7 separate regions of the Homo sapiens genome follow, and regions 1, 2, 3, 5, 6 and 7 are each linked to region 4. Evidence: fine-mapped expression QTL. A gene starts in region 4. Each other region holds a variant in brackets. All regions are shown on one strand. Distances are between the middles of the regions.

Region 1 (4,064 bases), 540 kb after region 4:
AAGTAGGGCTATTAGGAACCCCATGTTGCAGTTGGGCTCAGGAAGGTTAAGACACTTCTCTAGGGTCACACAGCGAGTAAACAGATGAGGAGACCCTCAGCCCCTGAACTCACTGGCTCGGGCCTCACCCGAAGGGTTCTCAGTGTCCACCTACCCACTCTGCACATCGTGCCCGGTGTGGGCCTCACCTGTGGTGGCCTTCTCTGGGCCGTGGCTTGCCCTGCACTCATGGGCACAGAAAGCTTCTCCCCTCTGGAGATGACCGGGGCTTTGGCCTCGGTTGCTGTGTGGCCATGGACAAGCCCTTGGGCCTGCCTTTCCTCAGGTCAGGAGTCTGGGAGGGGTGTGGAGAGTAGCGGGTGGTTATGGCTGGGCTTCAGGGCTCTTTATTCAATTCGAAATAAACCTAGCTGTAGGCTTCCATGGTGGCTTCATAGGCCTCCCCAGGCCTTTTGTTTGCCTGCTAATGGTTTCTAGTGCCCCTGCAGGGCCTGGCAGGTTCAAAGCTCACTCAGACTAGCAGCTAGCAGACTCCTAGGCTGGGGAAGGCTATGGACCTTCCTCCTTCACCCAGCCTGGCCCAGTCTCCCTGGGGACACACCACAAGCATGAGGTGGGGTAGGGGCAGCATGGGGTGGCACAGGGTGAGGGTAGGAGAGGTGGAGGAAGAAGACTCCTCCCAGGGGAGGTGAGAGGGCTGGATGCCCCCACTCCCACTCTGCTTCTGGTTGTGATGAGCCCCATGTGACTCCATCATTTGTGAGACCTTCAGATTTGCCCAGGAAGGCCCATCTGCCCATGGGCAATTTTAATGCCAAGGCATGATCTGTTCCTCTCTCTCCACCTTTCCCCCATCATCGCCTCCCACTCTTCTCCCATTCCTCTGCTCCAGCCACACCAGGCTCCCTGCTGTCCACAAGCACCCCAGGCCCACTGCTACCTCAGGCCCTTCGCACAGGCGGCTCCTCTGCTGACAGACTCCTCCCATTGGGTCCACATGGCTGGCTCATTTCCCCAGCTCCTTCAAGTCTCTGCTTGATGTTCATCCTTTTTTTTTCTTTTTTTTTCTGAGATGGAGTCTCACTCTGTCGCCCAGGCTGGAGTGCAGTGGTGCGATCTCGGCTCACTGCAACCTCTGCCACCCGGGTTCAAGCAATTCTCCTGCCTCAGCCTCCCTAGTAGCTGAGATTACAGGCGCATGCCACCACGCCTGGCTAATGTTTGTATTTTTAGTAGAGATGGGGTTTCACCATGTTGGACAGGCTGGTCTCAAACTCCTGACCGCGTGATCCACCCCCCTTGGCCTCCCAAGGCAAGGAGGGTGGAATGTGCTGGAATTACAGGCATGTGCTGCTGCACCCAGCCTGATGTTCATCTTCTCACCAGACCTGCCCTGAACATTCGACTTTAAACCGCCTCCGCCTGGCCCTCCCCATGTCCTGACCCTGCTCTGTTGCATTCCACAGATGTATTGCCTTCTGGCACTTTGTAATTAACTTACTTATGTTGTTTCTCCTTCTCCTGCATTAGAATATAAACTCTAGGAGGGCAGGCATTGTTGTTTGCTTTGATAACATTGAAACCCTCCCCAGTACTTAGCACAGTGCCCAAACACAGTGTAGGTCCCTGAGAAACACCTGCGGAATGAGTGAGCAGATGAGTGGATGGGTTTCAGTACATCTTAAAGCAAAGTATCTGTAACATTTGTCTCTTTAGGGACCAGAGAATGGGGCGTTGGAAGACCTAGGTTGGAGCCTCACCTCTGCCCTATCTTCGCTGTGTGACCTTGAGCAGGTCACTCTAACTCTTGCCGCCTCAGCTTCCTAACAGCGCCCCTGCCCGGCCTCTCTTGCAGGCCCACAGAATGAAAAGAGAGGAGTTCCAGGAAAGGGTTTGGCAGATGGCATCCCTGCAGGACTGCCTCGCGGCGCTCTGCCCCATCCAGCCCCTACGTACTGGCCATGTGACCTCAATGTTTGATGGACTCACTTGGCCTCTCTGAGGCTCGCTTTCTCCATCTCTAAAATGGAGGATGAAGCAGGTTCAGCCCCACGGGCAGGCAGCACTATGCCAGGGACATGGCGAGCCCTCTGGAAAAGTTCACCTGATCCAGACGTTGCTGGGTCAACGGGAAGGAATGACTTTCACTCCTCTGCTTCAAACCACCAGACTGTCCTTGGCCCTCCCTAATGAAGGAGCAGAGAACAGCAGAGTGGGCAGGGACCTTGGAGGTCAGCAGGGTGGCTGCTCAGCCCAGAGGCAACCGGGAGCTCGTCCCAGGGTGTGACAATTCAGTCAGCCCTTTACTGAACACTCGGCTTTAAACCGCCTCATGCCTGGCATGAGGAAGGCACCGTGCTGGAGGGTTTCACCACGGTTCTCTGTGTGTCTCCGGGGAGCTCACTGTCCTGTCTGAGGCCCGTCCGGGGTCCGGACAGTGGAGCTTTCAGGTTCGTGCGCACCCTCTGCCTGCCTCTTCTCCCTGTCAGTAAGGACGTGGGTGTGGCTGGGAGGCAGATCCTGGGTGGAGAAC[G/T]GAGCTCCTGGTTCTGAACAGTTTGAGGGTCTGGAAGTCCTTTAAGAAGATGGTGAAAACTATGGACCTTCTCCCCAAAGAGAAGCACACATCCACATCCAGAGGCAAAAACCCCATCGCTCAGAACCCCGTGGATGAGGCAGTCATTATCCAGTGGTGCTGTCACTATGGCTGGGGCTGGCCTTGATCTCTGTTGCTGGATTCCACATGTTCATTCTCTCTGGCCACATTATCAGATCTCTAGCTCCAACATCCTGTGTGATACCAGGATGGCCATTGCCATGATCTTGTCCACGGGTCCACTTTCAGCAGCTGGGCCCTGGAGGGCAGCACACAGCTCATGATTGGGTTGGAGATGGGGGAGTCAGGGGCAGATGGTGGGAGCTGTCCCCAGCCCTGCCTCTCTTAGGACCCTCCTGGGACTCAGGTACATAGGGTCCCTGAGAAAGACCCAGTTTGATGAGACAGGCAGGAGGAATAAGGAAGAGTGTAGTTTAAGAAAGTTTTCTCCAGCTCTGGTTCATGCATCCGTCCTGAAAGAAGGCAGGGAAAGGATTATTCACCCATTTCACAGATGAAGAAATTGAGGCTTGGAGAGGTCACGGAGCACACAGAGCAAAGAAGTCAAAACCAGGATTTGAATCTACTCTGATTACCTCCAGAGCCCATGTCTTGTCCCAATGGATGGAAAATTCTTAACTATTTAACTCAATATTGAGCAGCTACTGTCTACAGAATTCTGTGCCAGACAGCTTGGGAGACACAGACCTACAGGGAGATATAGTTCCCACTGGAAGCACCCAGGGCAGTAATAATTATCATCATAACAAAGGAATAATAATAGCTAACATTTTGGAGCACTTACTAGGGACCAGCATTATGCTACACAGTTTTCATGGATTATCTCATTTAAGCTCTCAAATATTTTGGGGTGTAAATAACAGTATGCCCACAATTTTTGTTTGTTGTTGGTGTTCAGAAGTGTATATCCGTTTTTGAGAATGGAGGCTCAGCGAGATTAGGAGCCTTGCTCTCAACGAGGGAGGAATTCTGGCTGCGACTCTGTCCCTTACTACCTGGGCATCACCTCTGTCAAACCTGGACAGGTGCCACTTAGACCTGGCTGAGGTTGGCTGAGGCGGGGAGGATGGGGAGGTTGTGGGTAGGCAGCACCTATTCATACCCACAGTCCAGGGACTGTTCCAGAAGAATAGTATTCCCTGTGCCCTTGCCGCCTCTGAGCCTTGGTGTCCCAGCCTTTCGATCCTCTCACTTCTGATGTCCTTGAGCCATAATCTGAGCCATTCTCTAGGATAAGGAGATGCTTGAGGTTGAGTGAAAGGTTGACATTTCTGCAGGAGCAAAGAATGACTTGATGCAGGAGAGAAAGGCTGTGGGGGGAAAGTGAGTGAGGCAAATCCCCAAGGCAGAGCAGAGCCTTCCAAAGGGTGCAGGGGAGAGTCTTGGTGGAGGGGGCCAGCCTTGCTCAGCAGCCCCAACCTCAACAAGGACCCCTACCCAAGAAGGCCTG
Region 2 (4,064 bases), 35 kb after region 4:
GAGCGCCAGGGCCTGGGGCCGCGGCCTTCCCTCGAGGAGCAGCGCAGGTCTCAGGGTGCGATCCTGGGCTGTGGCCCCGGGCAGGGCATTTGGAACAGGCTGACCTCAGCCTTGGTCCTCGGACCTCGGCCTTGGGCGCACCAGCCTGCGGGGCGCTTGGGCCCGTGCTGGGCGCTATGGCCCCGTGGGGATGGTCCCGGGCCCTTCCCTTGTGGGGCTCGTGAATGAAGGGCAGATGAAGTCAGCTGGGGACTCCAGGGGTGGAGGGAGGAGGGACCCCTGAGCTTGATCCTGCGAGACGCTGGACAGGAAGGGAGAGGGGCTCCTAAGAGGGCGCGGCGTGGCGAGGGGCGTGGCGAGGGGCGTGCCCTCGCCGAAGAGCACAGCCCAGGAGGCGGGGCCCGGGGCAGGCCGCGCTGTCCTCAGTGGGGAGGGCCTGAGAGCAGGACTACCAGCAGCCCCCACGCCTTCTCTATCTCCTTCCGGACCCCCAGATCCCTGTCCCTGGTGAGGATGCCCCCACTCCACCCGCAACCCTCGCCAGGGAAAAAGGGAGGCTGGGCTAAGGGAGCCTCACTCCCGGGGACCACAGAACAGGGCTGTGCAGCCCCCAAGTCACGCCCCTCCACACCCCCAGTCCAAGAAGACATACGAGCAGAAGTGCCGGGACGCGGACGACGCGGAGCAGGCCTTCGAGCGCATTAGCGCCAACGGCCACCAGAAGCAGGTGGAGAAGGTGCGCTGGGCTGCTGGGCCGTGTGGGTCGCCCAGGGCTGGGGGCAGTGGGGGAGGCAAGGAAGGGGTGCCGTAGACACCCCCAGGCAAGATCTGCATCTGGGGATGCTGCTTAGCCCTCTCTGACCCCCAATCTCCCCATCTGTGAAATGGGTTTCCTGGAGAGAACCTCAGGCCATGGACAGGCAGGTCAGCTGGATCCCCTTTGCCACCGTCAGGCGGCACTCAGGGACCCATTCCTCGGTGCAGGCCCACTGAGGCCCACAGGGTGATGAGAGCAGACGCCAACCCTCACACAACCTTGGAGAAGGGCTCAGTAGGCCCATGTCACAGAGAGGAAACTGAGGCTCACAGTAAGTGACTTGTCTAAGGTCTCAGAGCCAGGAAGCAGCAGAAAAGGGACCCCCAACTCAGGTGGTCTAGAGCCCATGCTCCTGATGCTGTGGCCCCTAGGCCAGAGTGGGGGTATCAGAGCTCCCAGAGCCCAGGAAACACATCACTCATTGCACAGACAGGAAGGCTGAGGCCCAGAGAGGGAAGTGGCCTGAGGGTGAGCTGGGGGCAGTCAGTCAGGGGCCAGAGCCCAAGTCCCAGCCAGGGGGCTCAGCAGTAGTTGCACCTCTCCTGTGGGTTGTGGTCTCACTCTTCACAGGCATCCTCCTGGGCTCGGTTCCTGTCTTCGTTCTCTTTCCATGGAGCTAGCCTGTGGTCCTCTGTGGGCGGAGGTTGCTTGTGGATGATGGCATCTGCCCATAGTTGGCTCCTGAATGTTCCCCCCAGGGTGGCCGGGGAAGCTTGACAGTCACTTCAGGTCTGCTGGGGTGGGCCCTGGCTCCTGGGGCAGGGGCTTAGCGCTGCTTCCCCTCTGTTTCCTCAGAGTCAGAACAAAGCCAGGCAGTGCAAGGACTCGGCCACCGAGGCAGGTATGTGGGCCTGGCTGCCCCGTCCGACCAGGGCGGAGGCCTGGGCGGTACTCCCCACACACACCTCCTCACCCTGGGGACACACACACTCCCCCTGGCTGCACAATCATGGG[C/T]GCGGCGCTCTCATTCCAGATATGTGCCGTCAAAGTAAACGCTGTGTTCCCCCATTCGCCAGCCCTTCTTGGCGCTTCATGTGTTCAGTCCTCACAGCTGCCCTCCGAGGTGGCTGCTGTTACTGTTCCCTTTCTTAACAGATGAGGAAACAGAGGCACTAAAAGGTCCAGTACTTGCCCCAGGTTACAGCTGCATTTGAACCCAGGCCATCGGGCTTCAGAGCCCAGGACTTGTGCACATAGCCTTCTCTGGGCCTCTGTCCTTCACTTGATGCCCGAATCCTACCAACACTCTTGTCCCTGCTGGTGCCCCACCCACCAGACACAGCACCCACCCTCCTCCCTTCCCCTGGGAAGGCCTCTCCCTTCTGCTCTGCCTTTACTGGGACTCAGCTACTCCCTCGGCTGGGGGACAGGTGACCTCCAGAGATCTGGGCACAGAAGTTGTGACCCAAGCCTGTGGGACTCCACCCCTCCTCCAGCGCCCTCTCAGCTGCCTTCTCTGAACCTCAGTTTCCCCTCTGGAAAGTGAGGTGGGGCGCCCAGAGATGCCCAGAGGCCAATACTCTGGACTTGCATATATGAGGCTCCACTCCAGCCCTCAGGCAGCTCAGAGCACAGTTGGGGAGCAGCAGCAGCACCAGCGTGGGTGGCCCTGACGGGCATTCAGATGAGGCCCCGCCATCTGCTAGGGCAGGTCCCATGGGGGAGGCGGGGCTCCCAGTGGGAGGAGGCATCCAGGATGGGACCTGCTGGAGTACAGGGGTGGAGGAGCTCGTGTCAGGGCCCTCCCTGAGGCTGCCTGCGCTTTCAGAGCGGGTATACAGGCAGAGCATTGCGCAGCTGGAGAAGGTCCGGGCTGAGTGGGAGCAGGAGCACCGGACCACCTGTGAGGTGAGTGGCCCACGTGGAGCCTCGTTTTCCCCAGCTGGGAAGTGTGAGACGCCCATCCCTACTCCAGCTGCTTAAAGGGGCCCAAGTGAGGCAGTTGGGGAAGGTACCTGTTACTCACTCGTTTATTCAGCCTCCTGCTCACAGGCCTGTGCTGGGCCCTGGCCCTGTTGCTTGTCGCCTGGCCTTGAGTCCTGGGCCCCTTCGTTGCAGGCAGGCATTCTTCCACCCTCTTTGTTGAAGCCAAAACTGGGACTTGGACTAAACCCACAGCCTCTCTGGGTGCTGCCGATGGACAGGGCCTGGGGAACAGGGCTCAGGACTCCCGTCCGAGGTCCCTCTCACTACCCTTCTGCCTCGGTGTGGTGCAGCCTGAAGGGAGGCTGGGGCAGGGACCCCCTGGGCATCTCCACCTCCCTCCCTGCAGCCTCAGGGCTGGCCCGGAGTCGGGATGGGGACCCCAGGGCACTCTCTCCTTTGGACTGGGCTTCCAGCAGAGAGGGCTGGCCTGGTCAGCTCCGGCTGAGCTGTGAATGGGGCCCAGCCTGGCCGGGCCCTGCAGCCGCCTCCTCACTGCTCACCTCCCTCCCACTGCCCCCAGGCCTTTCAGCTGCAAGAGTTTGACCGGCTGACCATTCTCCGCAACGCCCTGTGGGTGCACAGCAACCAGCTCTCCATGCAGTGTGTCAAGGATGATGAGGTGGGGGCTGAGGGCCTTGGTGTGGGGTAAGGTAGGGCAGCCTCTAGGCAGCAAAGCACCCAGGTCCATCTGAGCCGGTCAACAAGCACCTGGTCCTCTGTGATCCAAGCCTGGCCCCAGGGGTCTCAGGCCTCAGCAGCTCAGCCTTTGCCCCCAGAACCCCAAGACAGGAGCTCAGTACCACACAGGGCCATGGCTTCTCTGCCTGGAAGATGATGACTCTGTGGTTCCCCTGACTTCCTCCTTATGCCTCAGAGCCACAGAGCACCTGCCCCCTCTGCCGGGGATGGGAGGGGAGGTGGACACAGCTGTCAGAGGTTGGCAGAAGCTGGAGGACCGTGGCTGCTCTGCTCTAGGCCTGGTGCTTGCAGGAGCCGAGGCGCAGTCCTTCCTCTGCTCCCCACATCTCCAGGGTGTCCTGGTTCCCCTTACTGAGCCCAACCTGCTGGGTGGGTCCTCCCCAGCAGAGAGGGCCCCCAGCCAGGGTCCCTGAGCTCTGTGGATGGATGCAGCCCAGCACACGGCTCTCCCGGGCAGCCCTGGCCCCCTTGCCTGCTGTGTTTCCTGCCTGACGCTCCTGTCCGGGGCTGTGGGGGTTGATTTTCTTGTTGTTTTTGCCCAAGTGACTCGAGCCCCCTGCTGCCTCCTCGCCTCCTTGAGGTAGAAGGGCGAGCTCTGGACCCACTCTCCTAGCCCCAAGGC
Region 3 (4,064 bases), 25 kb after region 4:
AATGTAGGGTGTGCTTGCGCATGCTCTGACCTGGACTGAAGTCACCCTCCATGCCCACCTCCCTGGATCTCCGTGAGGGGGGGTTTCCTGAGCCCACAGAGAGCCCAGCGCAGCATCTGGCACATGGCTGGTGCCCAAGAAACCGCAATTGCTGTGATGGTCATGGAGACTGCACAGTGCTGAGGTGAAGGGCAGGGACCCCAGCCAGACAGCCTGGGGTTCAAGGCCAGGCCAGCCACTTTCCAGCTGGGCCGCTCTGGATACGATCACATGTCACCCTCCTACACCTCGGTTTCCCCACTTAGCTGAGATAGGGATATTGGAAGGGTGGCACTGTGAGTGAGTGAATTTCAGGCCTGGCTGTCATCAGGGGGACTTAAGGGTGGCTCTTCCCATCTGCTATCTCATGCTGATGTGTGTCCTGTCCTGTGAGCTCTCCAGATGCCAGGCCCGGCACCCCCGGCCCTGTCAGCTGGGTGGGGCTCACTTATGTACCTGTCACCTCTGCAGATGTGAGGGGACCTCCTGTGTGCCTGTGTAAAGCCAGGTCTGGAGTCCCAAGAGCTTGCCCTGAGCAGGGGAGATGGAGGCAGGAGGGAGGCTGTTCCCAGAGATGGTGGGAGGGTCCCCACAGGGCTGTGCTCAGTGTCGCCTGGTCGTGGCCCTCATGTGTCCTTCTGTCCTGTGTCACAGTGCAGGGACTTCACAGCCCACACGGGCTACGAGGTGCTGCTGCAGCGGCTTCTGGATGGCAGGAAGATGTGCAAAGACATGGAGGAGCTACTGAGGCAGAGGTGAGCTGCTGGGCAGGCCATGGGGAGCGCAGGCAGGAAGCAGGTGGCTTCCGCTCGGCTCCTGGGACAGTGGACGAGGCCCCCATCCCAGCCAAACTCTGTCAGAACACGCCCTGCTTTAAAAAACTCTTCTGTGTTCCCTCAAACCTGGGCCTCCCCCAGAGGTGGCAAGTCACTGATGATCTTTCAAATGCCCTTTTTTTTGCAGGGCCCAGGCGGAGGAGCGGTACGGGAAGGAGCTGGTGCAGATCGCACGGAAGGCAGGTGGCCAGACGGAGATCAAGTAAGATCTCCCGGGCCCTGGGGCTCACTCCTCTCCTCTGCTGGCAGTTTCTGGGCCTTTAGATGAGGTTTAGGTCTTCCTGGCATGGGGGAGGCTGGGCAGAACCAGGGTAGGTCTGGATTGCTCCTTGGTGCCTGGTTATTGGGCATTCAGGGTGAGGCCAGGTTCTGTGAGGGAGGAAGCCCGAGGGTCTGAGTTCTGGAAAGGGTCTGGGCAGGGGAGACAGGAGGCCATCCATCCTCAGTCATTTGCAGCGCAGTCTGCACCAGCCTGGGTGGCCTCCACTGAAGTCCTGAGGGGCAGGTGACAGGCGTCTCCACTGGTGGCTCAAGTCCCCTGCAGCACTGGCTCAGCATGGGCTTCAAGGATGGAGATGTAGCCAGAGACAGGGGTCCAGGAGGGGACACACCTGGGTTCCGGTGTCAGCTCCTCACCCCCCAGCTGTCTGACCATGGGCTGGCTGCTGACACACTCTGTGGCTCCGTTTCCTCATCAGTGATGGGAAAGTAACGCAGCCCTCCTCAAAGGAAGAAGTGGGCCCATGGGCTTAGCTGAGGCCTGGTTAGAGGGCAGGCCGTCAGGGAAGTGGCTCTGATGAAGCGGGAGTCTCCAGCCCCACAGGTCTCTGCACGCAGACTGCTGGGGTGGGAGGCCAGGTGAGGAGATGAAGGTGAGTTCAGGACACAGCCACCCTAACAGTGGAGTGGAGGGGCTGCTCTGGGAAGGCCCAGACTGTCCCCCTGGGTGAGGACAGAGCCAGGCCAAG[G/A]GGCAGACAGACCACCGGCCTCCAACTTCTTGAAAGGGCTCTGCAGAGTCCTCCTGCCGAGGGGCCCTGAGCCTGACCCTGCAGCTGCTGTGGAACCCCTTCCCTTCCTGCCTTCTCCCCCGAGAGAGGAACTGAATGTGCCATACTCTGAAGGTCCCCCAAAGACACCAGGCACCCTGGCGGCTCCTGCTTCCAACCAGGAGCCAGAGATCACAGGAAGGCTTAGATGTGGCATGAGCCGTGTGTGAGGCCAGAAAGTTGCACACAGCCCTGGGAGGACGGAGGGCTCTGAGGAGCCCTTGGAGCTCTGGTCCCGGCTCGGCCAATCTGAGCTGTGGGACTGTGGGCCAGTCGCCTAGCCTCTCCAAGTTTGTTTCTCACCTCCCACTCCAGCGAGCTGCCGTGCAAATCAACAAGAACATGGTCTGAGGGCCTCCCAAGGGAAGGGCTGAGGGCCGGGTGCAGGCTGGGCACAGAGGAGGGCTCAGGACATGGTGAGGAGTGAATGGACGTATGCAGGGAGGTGTTTTCTGCAGGAAGCAGTGCCCAGAGCTCTCAGCCAGGGGAGGAGCAGCTGTGGGGGCCTGGCAGCATGACCAGGGGAGCCCCTCCTGGTCTCCTGGCCTCCCAGCCTCCAGGCCAGCTGGAAGAGAACTTTCCCAGAAAGAGAGGGTACCTCATGGGGAGAACTCAGAGACTCAGGAGAGGTGGAGAGGGTGGCCCCAGCAGGGCACAATGGGAGCCAGGCTGGAGTGGGTCTGTGTGATGCAGGCTCAGGGGATTGTGAGTCACAGGGGATTTACAGCAGGGAAAGAGAAGCTACCCACAGAAAATACAATGGGGGTGGGGAGCAGGGTGGGCCTCAGGAAGCAGGAGGTACGCAACATCTTGCTCCATTTGTAGAACTAGGAAGGGGCCAGGTGGAGGCTCTGGGCGGCCCTGATTGCGCCATGGTTATTCAAGGCCAGGTGGGGCAGGGTCTGCCCTGACTTATCCTTTGTGTGGCCCTGGATGGTCCTCCCTGTCTCTGAGTCCAGGGTCTGTACCTATGGAAGGGGATGGTCACTTGGAGAGGTGTTCTGGGCAGTCACAAGGACAAGCAGAGAGTGCCAAGCCACAGGGGTTCACTGCACACAGTGGGGCTCCATAGTGTTGCTCTTGACCCATGTGGCATGAAGTACTGTTGATGAGGCCATGCAGCTGTTCCTTTCGGTGTAGGCCAAGCATCCATCCTCCATCCATTTAGTCACCATTTAATTGAGGACCTACTATGTGCCATGCCCTGGATGGGTCAGGAGGATTCACTAATTTAAAATAAAATAAAGGGCTTTGCCATTCCTTAGCCAGAGTCCAGCACAGTGAGGGTGACTTCCTTCTCCTTCCTAGTCCTTTGCATTAGGGCCCATTTATGCGCCACCTCCTCCAGGAAGCCCTCCCAGACACCTTGCCTTGCCTTACTGTCAGAGTCTTGGCTTAGACCCAATTACCCCTCCCCATGCCAACCTGAAGGGCTTTTGGTGGGGAAGTGTGAGCAGTGGCCGTGGACCTGTTTCCTCATCTTAGACTCCTGTGGGGGGGGGGGGTGTGTGTGTTGGCCCTCAGGAAAGGTGACCCGGCTCTTCAACATCGGGGCTGGTGGCCCACCCTCCAGGGCCCATCCCTGAGTAGGGGAAGCCCCTGGCCTCCCTGAGGCCCACAGCTGCCCCCCAGGTCTATGGGATGCTCATTCCCTGCCCCTTGCAGAACGGGCAGGGGACTGGGGGATGGGAAGGCTAGGAACAGGGTGCAGAACGAGGACAAAAGCCAGGTGGTTAAGTGACCCTATAAATAGCCTAGTGAGCCCTGAGGGCAGAACTGCTGCCTGAAGGTACTGCATTTCTGCAGTCCCCTGACCTCAAACCAGCCGGGAGCCACCCTCAGGCCTGGAGGCTCGGGCCACTGAAATTAACAGGAGGTTACATCTTAAGTGATTTTTGACATGTACCTCCTTCACATGTTAACTCAGCAAACATCCGTGGGGCAGTGGCAATGGAGGATGGACAAGTAAGACCCAGTCCCCAAACTCCAGGGATCCCCACCAGCGCTTTCAGTGCATTTTAAAGACAGCATTAGGGCCAGGCGCCGTGCCTCACGCCTATAATCCCATCACTTTGGGAGGCTGACCTGAGGTCAGGAGTTCGAGACCAGCCTGGCCAACATGGTGAAACCCCGTCTCTATCAA
Region 4 (4,064 bases):
CCATCAGCCCCGGTGGCTTCCCTAGATTGTTTTTCCTTTTATTGACTTGGGTGAGAGGGTCTCGAGGTAGAACTGGAGAAAGGAACAATGAAACGCTTTTTGAATAGAGGGCTGTTAGTAAAAGACAACTGTGGAAGTTAAGAGCGTGTGCTTTGGCTTCGGACAGATCTAGGACCAAAGCCCAGCCTTCTGCTTATTGCCTGCTACTTGGGTGCGTTACTTACACTCTTTAATCACTAGTTTGCCCCTCTGTAAAGTGGGGATAATGACAGTGTAACTGAGGTGGTCCGTGTGAAAAGCAGAATGATGTACCCGGTGCTGGGTAAGTACTCCAAAGCCGAATTGGCTGTCTGGTCGCCCAGCCTGGGGACCTGCAACAGGTAAGGGTGGAAGGGAGGGGAGGAGGAAGGCCTCTCTAGTAGAGAATTGCAGAGTCTCTCCAGAGGTTCCTCACATTACTTCCTTCCCCAGTTGCTCCAGCCCGTCACCAGCATGGCCCTCCATCCGGGGCTGCCCTGGCTGGACAGGTACAGTTGGGAAAGGAAGGCCTCATGTGTGGGAGCCTTGAGGTTGGCTTTGAGGGTGGGAGGATTTGCCCAGGTAAGGAAGATCAAGGAAGGCTTGCCAGAAGGGAGGCTGGGAACAGAGCAGGTGGGAGTGGGAAAGGTGCCTCCAGGGAGAGGGAAGAGGCCTGGCTGGAGCAGAAGTCTCTGGGAGGTGATGGGAAGGACACCTAGAGAGGCAGGGCAGGGAGCCCAGCTGTAAAAATTTCTGCCAATAAGCAGGCAGGAGCCTTCTGTTAACAGAGGGTCTCTAGTCTGCTCCAGACCTAGAGGCATCATCCCATCTGATGGATGGAGAAACTGAGCTCAGGGAGGCTGAGCCAGTGCTATCAGAGGTGGTGGTGCCATTGGGAGGTGAGGTGCAGCCTGGCTCACTCTATGGCCTACAAAGTTCAAGGGGATTTTTACACTATTAATTGTCTTCAGCTGCAAGTAACAAAAAACCTGACTGGGGCGCCTTACAGATTAAAGATTAGCTCAAATCCAAGGTTTCTGGAGGTGAGGGCCTTCTGGGGGCAGTCCCATTGCTCTGCAATCCTCCCCAAAGTGTTTCCTCTTGGGTGGCTATTTCAGAGCCTGGGTGTGCCCCCTCTCTCTAAACCCTGGGCATGCATAATGGGCACTTGGGAGCTCAACTATTTCATCTGCAGCAGCTCTCATCTTATCACCCCGTCAGCTGTAAGGCAGACATCAGTGAGGGTGGTGATTTGCGGACAATCCCTGACTCACCCCATTTTGCCAGCCTGCCCTGGGCTCAGGACTTCCTGCTGCATCTTCTGCTGAGCCGGCAGGGCGTGGCGTCTCAGGGCTGGGGCTGGGGCTCTAGTCCAGGGCTCTTCCTAAGGTGGTACCACACAGTGCCCCCAGCACCTGCCCACCAAACTGGAAATTCCAGAAATATTCTCGACACCGTCTACTTTCCAAAGACTGGGTGTGGCAGATGAGGAAGCTGAGGCTCAGCGAGTTGGGGGGTCTATTAAGGTCCCTCAGCCCCTGAAAGGTGGGGTCAAAATTAAACAAAAACTGGGCCTCAGACTGGGTTTCCAAACACCCCACTCTGTGCCTTGATAATCCTGTTTCTCTCTCCATCCATTCCCATTCACTGAGCCGGAAGCCTCCATCTTCAGAAGGGGGTTCTCTGCCCCAAACAGCGTCTAATCTGGAGACTTGCGGTGGTGGCGGTGGTGGTGGTGGGGGCAGTGCCGGGGCCTCAGGCTGTTCTCCCTCATCTTGCTGCCTGCTCACCTTGCCTCTGTGTGCTCACAGCCCCCCAGAGCACAGCTGTGTCTGCTCCCAGACTATGGGCTCCTTGAGGGCAGGACCTGGTTTGGGTCCCAGAGCAGCCAGGGTTTGATGAATGACAGATGCCCTAGACCTGGGTAAGCCCCTCCAGAATGACTTGCTAGTGCGGGGTGGGGAGTCTGGCATCTCTGGGCCCAGCCTGGAAGGGTGCTGGACTGGCTGGCGGGTGACACACCTGGGGTTCCTGGGCCCCTCCTGGCCACACTGTCAGTGGGCCTCAAGCTCCCTTAGCATATGGCCTCTGGAATAAAGTGAGCCCGCACCTCGGGAGGGGGCAAGCAGAGGCAGGAGCAGGATGGCAGGTGGCAGGCGGGGCTGCACAGGGGAGCACAGCAACTCCACTTCCTGTGGGCGAGGGCCCTGTGCCTGCCCCGGGGGAGGTTGCACAAACCTTCCTGCGCAGGCCTCGGGCTGCCTGCCTGCCTGCCTGCCTGGCCCGGCCCGAGCTCCAGCCTGCCTCTTCCACTGGCCACTGCCTCCCACCCAGGGCTGGCATCCCTGCTCCCTGCCCTGGGTCCCAGACTGTGTCCTCCATCACCGCAGGGTCGGTGAGGGGCTGGGCTGGACACCAGGGCCCGCCCTCCCATCACTGAGCTCCACTCCTTCCTCATTTTGCTGCTGATTCTAGCCCCAAACAAAACAGGTTGAGCTTTTTCCTCCCCTCAGAAGCTCCTCTCTGGCTCGTGGCTGCCTTCTGAGTGTTGCAGACGGCGCCGGCCGGGAAGGGGGGCCTGGGCCAGCCCTGCCAGGACTGGGACGCTGCTGCTGGCGCCTGGCCCTCCATCAGGCCAGCCTGTGGCAGGAGAGTGAGCTTTGCCGCGGCAGACGCCTGAGGATGATGCCCCAGCTGCAGTTCAAAGATGCCTTTTGGGTGAGTGAGGATGGTTGGGGGCACTGAACAAGTGGAGGGGGCAGAGCTAGGCTGAAATCTCCATGCAGGTGATGGGATGCGGCTCCGAGAGGGGAGCTTTCTCATAAAATAGTGGTTGATTCTTGGTCTTAATTGTCATGGAGGTGGCCCAGGCCCCCACCCCTTCTGGACTGGAACGCAAGTGGACTCCGTGAATGAGCGTCCTCCTCTCTGCTGCCCCGTGTGTTTTCTCCTCTGGGAGACCTCTCCCCACAGCAGGAGCTCCTCAGAAGAGGGTAACACATGGGTGGGGGCTTGAGGAGGATGTGTGGGGCAGCAAAGGAGGGGTCACAGATTTAGAGACCAGACAAACTTGAGTTCAGGTCTTGGCTCTGTTACAGGCTGGGCAAGTCATTTCTGTCTCCAAGCCTCAGTCTCTCCATCTATATAATGGTGATAAAATAGAAATCAACACACCAACTAAAGCATTGGATCAGCAAGGGGATCCAAGGCACTAAAGCCCCCAGCACCTTGCCTCACTCCAAATGGTAATTCTGTTCCCCTCACCCAGCCCCTTGTCCCTTGCAGACCTTAGGGGTCCTTCAAGGAGGCAGCCAGGTGGGCAATGGCTTGCTTACTTTCTTAAATTCAACACGGGCTTAAATCAAGTCATTTCCCCCATGAAATAAGGGCGCCCAGCCAGTGGTAGAGGTAAAGTGGCTTGGCCCGGGCCACGTAGCCTGCAGCCCAGCTTGGACCCCTGGTCATCTCAGCACTTTTCCAGCTGTCCTTCAACTACCCCTCTGCCCCTCAGCTCTGGCTGTGCCCAGGGCTCTGGGGAAAAACTGAGACCTCTCTGGTTGGAGCTGGGGAATGTGGCTGTCCCGGGGTGCTGCCTCCAACCCCGAAGAGGACGCTCTGGCCCTCGGCTCAGCCGGCTGAGCCCCAGCCAACAGCCCTGCCCTCCCCGGGCCTTTTCCTGGGGCTGCAGCCAGGAGGATGAGAGCTATGGAGCCAGGCCTTCCTTCCCTTCCGGCCGGCTCCACTTGGGGCCTGTGGCCAGCGTGTGAGTGTTCTGCTTCCTCTGCTCTGACTGTACAGTAGGCAAAGGACCCCACGTGGGGAGGGCACCTTGTGCCTTTCTGGGCCTCAGTTTCCCCATCTCTACAAAGACAGGGTGGGCCCAGCCCAGAGAAGCCAATGGAGGCAGAGCTGCCTCAGCCCATCCGGAGGACCAGGCACCAGGATGCTCAGGGCCCAGGCTGGCAGCTGGAGCCCTGGGGGATGGGGGATGTGAGTCACCACCTAGCTGCCCTGCCTTGGTGTGCAAAGTTGGGGGAAGGGGTAGG
Region 5 (4,064 bases), 93 kb after region 4:
GGTGCATGCCTGTGGTCCCAGCTATGTGGGAAGCTGAGGTAGGAGGATCGCTTGAGCCTGACCGTCAAGGCTGTGGTGAGCCATGATAGCACCACTGCACTCCAGTCTGGACAACAGAGAGAGTGCCTGTCTCAAAAAAAAAAAAAAAAGAAAAGAAGAAAAAAAAAATCACTGCTTATAGTGAGTGCTTGAGTGTTACAGCAGTTCTACAAGCAACAAGTACTTTTGTGTGTGAAGATAGATGTTTTATGCACTCCAGTATATGGAATCACATCTTGGTGCAACTGATGGATCTTGTCCTGATAAGGTCTGGCAGTTCCGGATGAAATGGCACATGAAATTGCCACCAACACAGCAAGACAGCCTGAAGAAACAAGTGTTCCTGTGACAAAACTCCTACATGTGCTCATCAATAAGTACAGTGTATGTGACATAAGAGTAATTTTATTACACAATTATGTAGCTCAAAGCAATGTAGTAGCAATTTAAGAATGCATCTGAATTGCTCTCCTTAACGAGCACCATCAATTCAGAGTATTTAAGATTGGTCCGCAACACAAGAAAACTTGAAAACCCTGAAATCTTACAGCTCATTTATAAAAGAAATTTGATAAAGGTTTCCCTCAACTTGACAACAATCCTAAAAATGTACACGACTTTACCAGTAAGTCATGAAGCCAAAATAGATTTTTGTAAACTATCACTAATAAAATAACAAATTAGTCAACCATACCACGGCAAGCAGTGAATTATCTTTCCATTCTCTTAATAGAAAATGGCAGCACGAAAGTACTGTCATATGAAAAAGCAGCCAAAAGATATGTAGCAAAAATGAAGGGAAAAAAGATATTATAAATGTTTATTAAGCACTGAATAAAAAATATACTGCTATTGGGGGGATTTTATAATATTTGTAGTGTCAACTTTTCTGATTTGTAGGTTGTTTTATTTTCTCATTTCAAGTAACTATTCATGTCTGTACCTAATAGTGTCTTTTTTTATTATTTTTTTTATTTTTTTAGACAGGATCTCACTCTGTCGCCCAGGCTGGAGTGCAGTGATGTGATCTCAGCTCACTGCAACCTCGGTCTCCCAGGGTTCAAGCACGATTCTTGTGCCTCAGGCTCCCAAGTAGCTGGGATTACAGGCATGCACCACCACGCCCAGCTAATTTTTGTATTTTTAGTAGTGACAGGGTTTCACCATGTTGACCAGGTTGGTCTCAAACTCCTGGCCTCAAATGATCCACCTGCCCGACCTCCCAAAGTGCTGGGATTAGAGGCGTTTGAGCCACCGTGCCCAGCTGTTAATTTTGTCTTTATGATTTTTATTATTTTCCTTAAGGAAGGCCTCCAAATTGTACAAAGTTAGGGACCACAAAACTTGCATCTGCTGTGGCCTGAGGGGCTGCAGTGATTCACACTCCACAAGAGACCCTTCCAATACCCCAGGCCCTCCTGCTCTCTCCTTTGGCTCCAGTGGGTGAGACACCCCCATCTCTTACCAGAGTGCACTGCAGCTGGCACTGCCATGGATCTGAGCCATGCCCAGCCCCAGGCCCCTGCACAGGGGACAGCAGCAGGCACCTCCCCGGAGGAATGAGCCTGGCCTTGGGAGGTCCCACCCTCCTGCACACTTCTGCAACCAGGCTTCCTAACACTGGCCTCGCTGCTCTCACACCTTCTCTGGCTGCTCAGCTCCTCCAAGACAAAACAGTTGGGCATTTAAGGCCTTTCTGGGTCTGGTTTTATTTTACATTGAAAATAGTTTTTTTTGTTTTTTTTGGTTTTGTTTTTTGGAGACACAGTTTTGCTCTTGTTGCCTAGGCTGGAGTGCAATGGTGTGACCTCAGCTCACTGCAACCTCTGCCTCCCGAGTTCCAGCGATTCTCCTGCCTCAGCCTTTCGAGTAGCTGGGATTACAGGTGCATGCCACCATGCCCGGCTAATTTTTGTATTTTTAGTAGAGATGGG[G/T]TTTCTTCATGTTGGCCAGGCTGGTCTCAAACTCCTGACCTCAGGTGATCCACCCGGCTCAGCCTCCCAGAATGCTGGGATTACAGGTGTGAGCTACCGTGCCTGGCCCAAAATAGGTTTTAAAAATTAGATTTTCTTTCAGAATAAATCTGATAAACAAGAAAGCAATCTTGTATCTGGCCACCACAGTAAATTCTTGACTTTTAAAAATATTGACACATAGTAATTGTACATATTTGTGGGGTACAGTGTGATGTTTCCATACACGCACACATTGTGTGATGACCAAATCAGGGTAGTTAGCATATCCATCACCTCCAACATTTATTATTATTTTTTTGCACCACAGTAAATTCCTTAATGATTTCTATTTTTTTTTTCCTGTTGATTGGGAAGACAAACATGTTATCTGCAAATAGCCATGTGGTCTATTCTTTACCAACATTTAGACTTCTGGATCAGTCAGAGGTTTGGTTCGCAAACAGCAGAAATCAACTCTACTTAAACTAACATGGGAAGGCTACTGGGAGAATCAAACTCTCGGCAGGCAAAATAACCAAGGTTTTATTACAGTTCTGCCTTCTTTCTGTGACTTAGCACTCCTCCCTCAGAAGGTGCAGCCTAACATCTGAAAATATCTTCACTTCTTTTCTCAGTTACTGATATAGCTTGCATTGCATGTTCCCTCCAAATCTCATGTCGAATGTAATTCCCAGTGCTGGAGGTGGGGCCTGGTGGGAGGTGTTTGGATCAGGGGGCAGATCCCCCATGGCTTGGTGCTGTCCTCGAGACAGTGAGTTCTTGGGAGATCTGGTTGTTGGTTCTTGCCATGTGAGATGCTTGTTCCCCCTTTGCTTCCACCATGAGCAAAAGCTCCCTGAGGCCTCCCCAGAAGCAGACGTCAGTGTTATGCTTCTTGTACAGCTTGCAGAACCACGAGCCAATTAAACCTCTTTTCTTTATAAATTTCCCACTCTCAGGTATTTCTTTGTAGCAGTGCAAGAACAGCCTAATAATGGTTATTCTGTACAACTCCAAGTCCAGTAGTTCTGGGTGAGATCCATTCCTTCTCTAATTCTGTCCCACTCCTGTCTCAATATTCTGCAACAATGTATACAATAGTGGATTAAAGGGAAAGACAAAATACATTTATTAAAATATATAAATATACCCATGGCACAGCAAGGAAGAACATACAGGCTCTGTATGGTTGTGGTTAGGATGTGTGACCTCCCTCCTCATTTATTCCATGTTTCCTGTGTCCTCCACCCACACCTTGGGTGGCAGGCATTCTTTACTGGTAGGGTGACCTAGACCATTATTCCCAAGGGGGCTAAGCCCTGGTGCCCTTGCCTAAATAGGTTTGTTGTACCTTCTTCCATGTTGACCACTGTATGAGGATGAGCATTGTAGGAGGATGAGCAGACAGGACAGAGGGATCCTGGAGGTCAACCTCACTTCTTCATGCCCCCATCGCAGTGACCTCCCCATTACCTTTGATAGTCTAAATCAATGCTGTCCAATAGAACTTTCTGCAGGGATGGAAATGTTCCATAGCTGCTCTGGCTAATATGGTAGCCAGGAGCCACATGCGGATACAGATCACTTGAAAGGTGTCTAGTGTGTCTAAGGAACTGAACTTCTGATTTTGTTTAATTCAAGATAATTTAAATATAATAGCCACGTGTGGCTAGTGGCCACAGTATTGGGCAGCACGGGTCTAAATCAGTCATTGAAGCCAAAGCCTTGACCTCTCTTTGGGCCTGTTTGTCCAGTACCATGGAGAGCCCGTAGTGGTGGGCTGTCAGTATTAACTTCCTGTTTAGGCAGCCATTGTGTTTTACTCACATTGAAGCTTTACTCCTTTGGATATCAAAACCTGTAAACCAACAAGCGCAGAGCTGTGGGAACAAGAAGCGCATTTATTGAAAAGGTGTTATTAGTGAAGGGCACCATTCCCACATCCATGCTTTGGTGCCAAGATTGCTGTGATCAGTATAAATTGGTTGCTGGTTGTGCTCACATACCAAACGCTGGTGGACAGTGTCCCAAATTCACAAAATGTTGTCTACCAGGGTGCTGGGACTGATC
Region 6 (4,064 bases), 20 kb before region 4:
TATGCATGTATTTTTAACTACAGGAATGGCATTATGTTATAAAAATCTCACTTGGTTTCCTACTTTTCTCATTAAACACTTTGATTTTAAGATATATCCATTATATCCATAATGCGTGTACTTGCAGTGCAGCAACCCCACTTTCCTTATCTACTCCCGGGCCGGCGGACTCTCCCGCCGCCCCTCGCTCCCTCCTCATAGGCACAGGAACAGAATTTCTGAGTCATAAGACTGATACAGACGTTTCAGTCTGGAAAACTGCAAGCACGGCAGATGCCAAAACCCCTTTCCTGTGCCTGAAAGAGAACTTCTGGAGGTATGAAGGGCAATAATGCCTCCCATCCTCCCTGTGGCTCCAGAATTAACTCTCGAAACAACAGGATTTGGGGTAGGAAGGTTACAGCTAAGGAGCCGCCAGTCCCCACCCATCTGCTCTGGGAGAAGTTATCTCGAGGTCCAGTTAAGCGGTCCAGCAACTCCGAAGGACTCGCTGGAAAGTCCTGCACACCAAGCTTGCCCCTTCTGCATAGCTCGGGGTAGGGAGCAGCCACCTCTTGTCTCAAGACTGAGGAGGCCTGGGGCAGGGCGGGGCAGGCAGAAGACTTGAGCAGGGACACCCTGGGATGAGGTGGTGCCTCCTTGATCGCTGCACCTGCCCCTGCACCTGGGGTGGGTCTGAGGGGAACAGCATCACTAACTGCTGGACTGAAGCCACCATAGGAAGCTCAGGCTTCTTGGGCTAAATAAAATTCAGAAATGTCCAGACTGGCTGTGACACCAGGCTCTTCAAGCAGCCCTGACACAGGGGGTCTAGGGGGCTTTTGCTGACTTCTGCTGCTCCACCTTCCTGGGCTCTAGGAGGCGCTGTTCCTCCAGCATCCAAGAATCAGCCTGAACCAACGGCAGCTGCCAGGCGACAGCTCAGAGCCCAGTGGGGGTGGTAAAGACCATTCAGATAAAGGCTTGGGGAAGAACAATGGAAATTGTTCCCGGCAGCACCCAAACCTGGAAAACTCTTTTGGGGCAGAGCTTGGGTGTCTCCTGCCTTGATCTCAGTGCCATCTTTCTCCCCTGGCTCCAGAAGTTTCTTCTATTCTTCCAGATTTTCCAAATGCAGACCAAGAGGGATTGAGCTCTCCTCTACCCTGCCTGGCCCAGAAGTTCCATTTCCTACCTCCTTCTAGCAGGGGAGCAGGGGCCTTCCTTGGTGGCCCCCAGGATGGCCCTATCTCAGAAAGACACAACCACGACTTCTCTGTATAATAGACACCACCACACAGTAAGTAGTGGGAGGATGGGGTGGGGAGGGACTTTTATTTGTCCTTTAGGCCCTTAACCCATGGCATGACTCTGATGGTTAAGGACAGCCTGGGACAAGTCCAGTGAGATTAGGGTAGGAGAGTGGGGAGGTGAGTAAGACCCCATGGGGGTGTGAGTGCCTCTGAGGCAACCTAGAGTGGAGGTGGAGGGGGTGGCAGACCCTTAGGAAATAAGCATGACCCCTGGCTGGGTAAGGGCACCCACTATGAGGGTAACAGTCACTCGTTCATCCCACAACCATTTTTGATATCTGTAGGTGTCAGGTACCATGCTAGTTGAAGGATATAATTGTGAACAAGTGATGTGTGGGTCTTAGTGTCGAAGAGCTGACATTGGAGGATATCAGAGACAAAAATCAAGTAAGCAAATACAGCATTGTTAACTGCAGTAAGAACGAGGAGGACAGACACAGGCCCACAAGGAGGTCCGGGTGGCTCCTGGCATCAGGGCCATATGTAGCTC[A/G]GCTTGGGGTTCAGGGTCCTAACTCCAGCTCTGGCAGGCTGGAGGAAGAGTCCCACATCCAGATGAAGTGGCACTTATGGGTCTGAAAGATATAAGCCCGGGTCTAGGGGCTGAGTGGTCCTGTATGCCAGGGGGCATGCCAGGAGCTTCACCATGTTAATGTGCTTCATCCAGAGAGGAAGCTGACCACCAGCAATGCTTGTGAGACTGGCTGCTGGCTGCCTTCTTATTCTCCTCTTGGGTCAGGGCTGACCCTCTGATGGGGTGGGGCTGAGGCTGGCCAGCAGGGAGGCCAAGCTGTTGGATCAGAGGAAGGCGATGTCAGACACCAGCCCCTGTCACCCACCAGCTCTTCCCTTCCCATTGTCCCTGGCTGGCCCTGGCCCAGCCTCTCCAGCATCCTCATTTGCCTCCCTGCCTCCGGCTCACCCTGCCCACATATCCACCAGGGGCTGCCGTTGTTTCTCTGATTAGTTACTGTGTTGCTGCCAAATTAATGCTTCTAAACCATATTTTATAACAGCAGCCTTCATCTGCAGAGAATCTTTGAAAATACTTGGCTTGGCATTTAAAGTGGTACAAAAATGTGGCCTTACTGAATTTTTACAGCTTTATTTATCCTTTCAGAGGTGCATCCTGCACGTATGTCAAACTGTGGGTCCTCATCCCTCTGCCACACCTCTGCTCAGTTATCTTTCTCTCCTTCAACCCCCCTCCCTGCCACCCTCCTGCATCCCTCTGGGTAGTGAAACAGCCCCTTATTCAGTCAGCCAGCCTTGCATTCAGCAGGCTCTGCAGGCTCCCACTCTGTGCCCGCCATTCCTGGGCAGCACTAGGACCCCCCCTGCTCTGACACCTCATCCACTTGTTTTGTAATCTTATTAATCTTCATTTATTAACTCCTGAATGAGACCTTATCCTTCTGCTCCTCTGAACTGTAACCCTTCAATGGCAGAGGCTGCATCTTGCCCATTCCTTGGCCTCATGGTTCCCTGCCTGTGGCAGGGGTCAATAAATGTGCTACATGACCTGGACTAACATGGGCTCTGGAAGGAAAGCACTAAATACTGGCCTGGGGGCTGGAACTCAGTCTCAGCTCTGCCACTTAACTGCTGGATAGTCTCTGGAACATTACTGTCTTTTTCTGAGCCCCAGGATCCCCAGCTATAACATGCGGCTGCCATCCGTGTCTTGGTTACCTTACTAGGCTAAGGTGGGAGACTGCAGGTGCGGGCTGTTATTATAAGGGTTTTCCCTGAGGGTGGGGTGTGTACTGGGGCAGGGGGAGATATTGTGTTTCTTGGTGCCTCTTGGCCATAAGACCTGAGCAAAGCCAGCATGAAGCCCCTCCACAACCCTCAGATGGCAACCCAGGGGGTTAAGGCGGGGGGGATGTGAGGCAATGGCCAGCAACCCCATACACACCTGTTTAGGTGAGTTGCAGATAAGGTGCTCTTATGCTCCCAGGGCTTTCTGCCAGCATTGAGGAGAAACAGGAGCTCTTCTCCAGCCAGGTGAACATGGCCTCGCTTGGCAAGCTTGCAGTCCTACATTCCGGTAGGTTACAGGCTGCTTCCAGTAACGCAGGGAAGCTGGGGAAGGATGAGTTGGGACATTTTATTATGGTGGACTATCTGAGTGGAAATGGATAGCTGAGCCCTCTGAGGACCCGCAGCCTCATTACCCAGAGGGGAAACCAAGGTTCACGCAGGAGAAGGGGCTTGTCCAAGGTCACTTTTGCAGTCTTGTCTCTAAGAATATGGATTTTGGAGACAGGGAGATTTGAATTCTGCCACTTACTAGCTATAAGAGCTTGAGCAAATTTCAAGCCCTGAGGCTTAGTTTCTGCAAATGTTAATGAGGAATCACAATTCTGATATTTTATTGCTATGAAGATTAGAGGAAATGATAGATGAAGAGCTTGCTCCTGAGTGGCTGTTCAGGCCTCCAGCCCCAAGTCCCTAGGCATAGGATGATGGGGGAACTGCTGAGAAGGGCCTTCTTGTTTCTCAGGCAACAAAACTGCCAAAGGCTTTAGGAGAGAATCCTAGTGGGGTTTGGGTTGGGGGAACTCTGATTTCAAGGAAGTGAGTGGCTTGGGATCTGGTCCAGCCTTCCCGTCCTTTCCTTTCATTCATCTGCTCATTCATTCCACAGATGTGGATTAAGCATCCACTCAGGGACAGATTCTGTCCTGGATGCTGCTCTATCAAAGAGAACTAAAACCCAACTGCTCCCCACCCTAAATGCTCACAGTCCAGTGGAGAAAGAGAGAGAGAGAC
Region 7 (4,064 bases), 380 kb after region 4:
TGGGAGGATTGCTTAAGCCAGAAAGGTGGAGTCTGCAGTGGGCAGTGATTGAGCCACTGCATTCCAGCCTGGGGAACAGAGTGAGACTCTGTCTCAAAAAATAAAGTAAAACACAATTACAGATAAACATAGACAAGGTATGGGAAAAATACAATGTTATATATACTCTTTTTTTTTTTTTTGAGATGGAGTCTCACTCTGTTGCCCAGGCTGGAGTACAATGGCACGATCTCAGCTCACTGCAACCTCCAGCTCACTGCAACCTCCACCTCCCAGGTTCAAGCGATTCTCCTGCCTCAGCCTTCCAAGTAGCTGGGACTACAGGTGTGCACCATCACATCCGGCTAATTTTTGTATTTTTAGTAGAGATGGGGTTTTACCATGTTGGCCAGGCTAGTCTCAAGCTCTTGACCTCAGGTGATCCGCCCACTTTGGCCTCCCAAAGTGCTGGGATTACAGGCGTGAGCCACCATGCCAGGCCAACAATGTTATACTCTTATGTGGTCCTCGTTGACCAAAACTTTGTCATTCCATGCATAACTGTATTTACAACTCTTACCTGGTTAGTGCCTGGAATAACTTCCTGAATCTCATCTACTGTATCACCTGCTGATTCAAAAATCACCTTAGAGCCCAACTCCTTTACTTCACCTAATAAAACTTACTGAGCTTGGACATGTAAAAACCACATGTGGTATATTTTCTTCCAGTGCAACAACGCCTATGAGACTGGGCAAGTTGAGACCAAGAGTGATCTCTCCTCTTCATACAAAACAACTAGCCTATCATTTGAATATGCTATTATTTTACACATGAGTTTAAAAAGAAAACTATGCCTGACTATCACATTTCCTAAAACTGTAAGTTTCTAAGGACTGCACTGACTCTGTATAACAATATTATATATATATATATATATACATAATCCCATAAAAATAAAGCAAGCAAGCATTTTGTAATTCTTATTTCACCTGTAAAAAGGCCAACCACATGACAATTTTACGAAGCATCTCATTTCTTTAGTAAACTATTGAAAGATCATCTCTCTCTCTTTGACATACATGGGCAGTGGAAGTCATAAGCAAAAGCAAAATGAAATGATCGTCAAAAATTCGTGCTTCTTACAGAGTACGGAATTCAATAGTCTAACTGCCAGGAATCTTGCTACTTCACGGTATTATTTACATATTACAAATTATATTTAATTAGAGTTTGTTATTTGTTCCATTTTAAAGGTATTGGAAAATAAAATATTTCCCTTTGCTGACATACTAACACACTCTTTACTATATACTAAAACTTTATAACATTTTATGTCTTAGTGGTTTTTGGAAGGTCAATACCATTGCATACTTATATGCTGAAATAAATCCTTTTAAAAATCACATTGTCAATTCTCTTTGGCTTCAGAAAATAGACATGTCAAAAACTCAACTGGAAAGCAAATAAATCACAATACCTTTGAAGTGTTATTAAATAATCCTGAAGACGAAATCTGAGTCAAACTACAAAAAGGCCCTCAATCTCTGCTACCAAGAATTGTGTTGGATTCATTCATATATCATTTATAGAAAAGAAGTAATCACCATGTCTTTAGCCAAGCACAAACATGTTTGTTGAGATGGACTGTGTAAGTCCGAGGATTTTGCTCGCCACCCCTATATTTCCTTGGTCTACAAGAAACAACTGTAGTTCAGCTGAGACTGTCTTTAACTGGTTTGTTTTTAAAGAGCTATATCTGCTGAAATGAGATTGCCTAAAAGCACTGCAATCCTCTCCAGTGGGATTACAAGTTATATTGGTAATAAATGTGTTCACTTAGGTAACAAGAAAGAAGAAAAAGGCAACCTACAAATAGTGCTGAAAATCTGAAGTTATACATTTTCTCCAATGAAATAAAAGTAGTTGAATACCATATATTTCAAATAGAAACTCAAAAATCTGGGGATGTCCACAGCAAGACCTTCCCATAAGGAGCAAAATTATCTAGCAGTCCTTCTAAGAGGAACCTGAATTAGCATTCTCTATTGAACTAAAAAGTCGTAAGAGAAT[G/C]TGAGTCACTTTTGAAGAGCTCATTGAAGAATAAAATGAGACTTTAAGTCTTTAAAGAAACTATCTAGAAATATATACAAATCCTAAGTTGAATACAATGTAACAAAAATAACACTTATCAAACACCCTCATACTTACAATTCTATACCCTCTGGGAAGAACGGTATACATGGAGGGAAGCCATTTTCTAGCTGGACATACTAGGCTAGGGTTCCCGAAATCCAATATATAGAGATTCAGGGGTTTGCTGCAAATATTCTAGAAGTGTATATCTAGAGTAAGAACTGTTCACTGCCAACCCAAGGGCCCATCCAACATAGAATACACCAATAGGGACCCTTAAGAGGATTGGTTAGGTCCAGGACCTTCATAAGAGATCTAATTAGCTTTAGAAAACGGGCCAGAAACTCTTGTAACAGGAAACTTTTCCGTTTACAGCAGGACTTGCCTACAAGATACCAAGACTAAATGCTGTTTCACTAGAATGGGACTTATTTCAACCAATCATATACAGATCTATGAATTCATGCCATCCTATCCAAAATGCTGGTTTTCAATACTTAATTTGGATAACTACTCCAAACCTACCCTAACCACTGCTCTTTTCTAGTACTAAAATCCAGACTTTTCTTCCTCAACAATTACTCACTGAATTTCTTTACTATATTTCTTTACCTGGCAAATGTAAAATCCTTACTATATTTCCTTACCTGGCAAATAAATAAACTCAGCTTTGTTTTATCTTGTTTTTTTAGCTCCATTGGTCTTTGTTATATTCTTTGACATATTGATTTTCAAGAATATTTTCATTCCTTTTCTTCCACCAAAAGCAAATCAATACTGGCCTGGGAGCTAGAATCGGTCAATAGCATGACCTGCCCTGGTAATCAATAATACACGCTGGTTATGTAATAATACAGGCCGATGGTTAGGTCATGCCACTGGCGTACCTGAAAATCTGCCAGATAATTAGAATCACCCTTTCAGCAAAAACAGCAACTCTCTGAGTACTCTGGTGGTACTGATCAGTGCAGTTTTGGAAGGCTGGACATAACTGATCTTTAAAGGCAAGATCCCTTTTTATTCCTCTTTCTGCTTATTATGTACGTGGTCCACTGTCAAAGAGATATGAGAAAATCAGTTTTTTGAATTTTTTGAGACAGGTTCTTACTCTGCTACCCAGCCTAGAATGCAATGGCACGATCACAGCTCACTGCAGCCTCGACCTCCCAGGCTCAAGTGATCCTCCCACCTCAGCCTCCCAAGTAGCTGGGACCACAGGCATGCAACACTATGCCCAGTTAATTTTTGTACTTAGTGTAGAGATGGGGTTTCACTGTGTTGCCCAGGCTGGTTTCAAACTCCTGGGCTCAAGTGATCCATCCACCTCAGCCTCCCAAATTGCAGGGACTACAGAAGTGAGCCACCATGACTGGCCAAAAATCAGTTATTATGCAACAACTATTTGCTTGACAAGCATCCCCCTCTCTCCCAAATGGCAGAGTAAGTGTTGCTGGAAACCCTGGTATGCCACTTTCATCAACCCAAAACTATCTACATTTAATACACAATCTTTTAGGAGGGACTTATTTGTCAGGTAATTTCAGAGTGAAGCATAACTGCCAGGTAAAATAAGTTTTATTTAGACAATATGAGCTAATAATATGATTTGCCTTATTAGGTCAGCCTTGGCTCCCCAGCACTTCCCAAACCCTGCTCTCCCTCTTCACAGAGAATATCCCAGAGGCTCTGTGGAACCCAAACAGCAAAATGCTACTATGGAGTTTTAAATAATGGAGTAACATGCTAAAAATCATGTTTTAAGATTAATAACCTAAAAAGCTAATCTAGGACTACAGTTGGGAGACAATGGAAGCAAGGAAACCAACTCAACATGACATAATTGATCCTTAAAGAATACAGCAATGGCCAGATGCAGTGATGTGTACTTGTAGTTCAAGTTACGTGGGAGACTGAGGCGAAAGCACTGCTTGAGGCCAGGAGTTAATGGC

What was found.
Region 1: its variant is fine-mapped to the expression of PSTPIP1 in whole blood (TOPMed, PIP above 0.99).
Region 2: its variant is fine-mapped to the expression of PSTPIP1 in tibial nerve (GTEx, PIP above 0.99). The same link has a PIP of 0.9 or more in whole blood.
Region 3: its variant is fine-mapped to the expression of PSTPIP1 in whole blood (TOPMed, PIP above 0.99).
Region 5: its variant is fine-mapped to the expression of PSTPIP1 in whole blood (TOPMed, PIP above 0.99).
Region 6: its variant is fine-mapped to the expression of PSTPIP1 in whole blood (TOPMed, PIP above 0.99).
Region 7: its variant is fine-mapped to the expression of PSTPIP1 in whole blood (INTERVAL, PIP above 0.99).

Annotation. Positions count from the first base shown.
Region 1 is chr15:77,529,387-77,533,450 of GRCh38, forward strand. LOC101929457 (a long non-coding RNA gene) reads left to right here. Exons shown (of 2, transcript NR_135692.1): 2 at 1,717-4,064. Among named protein-coding and RNA genes, the nearest start is that of LINGO1, 100 kb to the right of the region's middle. RefSeq lists enhancers at 1-130, 131-972, 973-1,816. The variant G/T (reference allele first, on the strand shown) is at 2,534.
Region 2 is chr15:77,027,917-77,031,980 of GRCh38, forward strand. It overlaps PSTPIP1 (proline-serine-threonine phosphatase interacting protein 1), which reads left to right. Exons shown (of 15, transcript NM_003978.5): 7 at 638-736; 8 at 1,613-1,658; 9 at 2,586-2,665; 10 at 3,264-3,362. Among named protein-coding and RNA genes, the nearest start is that of PSTPIP1, 35 kb to the left of the region's middle. The variant C/T (reference allele first, on the strand shown) is at 1,772.
Region 3 is chr15:77,017,455-77,021,518 of GRCh38, forward strand. It overlaps PSTPIP1 (proline-serine-threonine phosphatase interacting protein 1), which reads left to right. Exons shown (of 15, transcript NM_003978.5): 2 at 694-794; 3 at 1,003-1,077. Among named protein-coding and RNA genes, the nearest start is that of PSTPIP1, 24 kb to the left of the region's middle. RefSeq lists enhancers at 1,645-2,217, 2,407-2,536. The variant G/A (reference allele first, on the strand shown) is at 1,844.
Region 4 is chr15:76,992,874-76,996,937 of GRCh38, forward strand. It overlaps PSTPIP1 (proline-serine-threonine phosphatase interacting protein 1), which reads left to right and starts at 2,253. Exons shown (of 15, transcript NM_003978.5): 1 at 2,253-2,736. The coding sequence starts at 2,701. RefSeq lists an enhancer at 1,958-2,007 and a silencer at 2,248-2,437.
Region 5 is chr15:77,085,861-77,089,924 of GRCh38, forward strand. No RefSeq gene overlaps it. Among named protein-coding and RNA genes, the nearest start is that of TSPAN3, 17 kb to the left of the region's middle. The variant G/T (reference allele first, on the strand shown) is at 1,974.
Region 6 is chr15:76,972,653-76,976,716 of GRCh38, forward strand. LOC105370904 (a long non-coding RNA gene) reads left to right here and starts at 252. Exons shown (of 3, transcript XR_932492.2): 1 at 252-316; 2 at 1,103-1,279. The variant A/G (reference allele first, on the strand shown) is at 1,783.
Region 7 is chr15:77,377,289-77,381,352 of GRCh38, forward strand. The region is part of intron 1 of PEAK1 (pseudopodium enriched atypical kinase 1); the gene reads right to left. Among named protein-coding and RNA genes, the nearest start is that of PEAK1, 41 kb to the right of the region's middle. The variant G/C (reference allele first, on the strand shown) is at 2,053.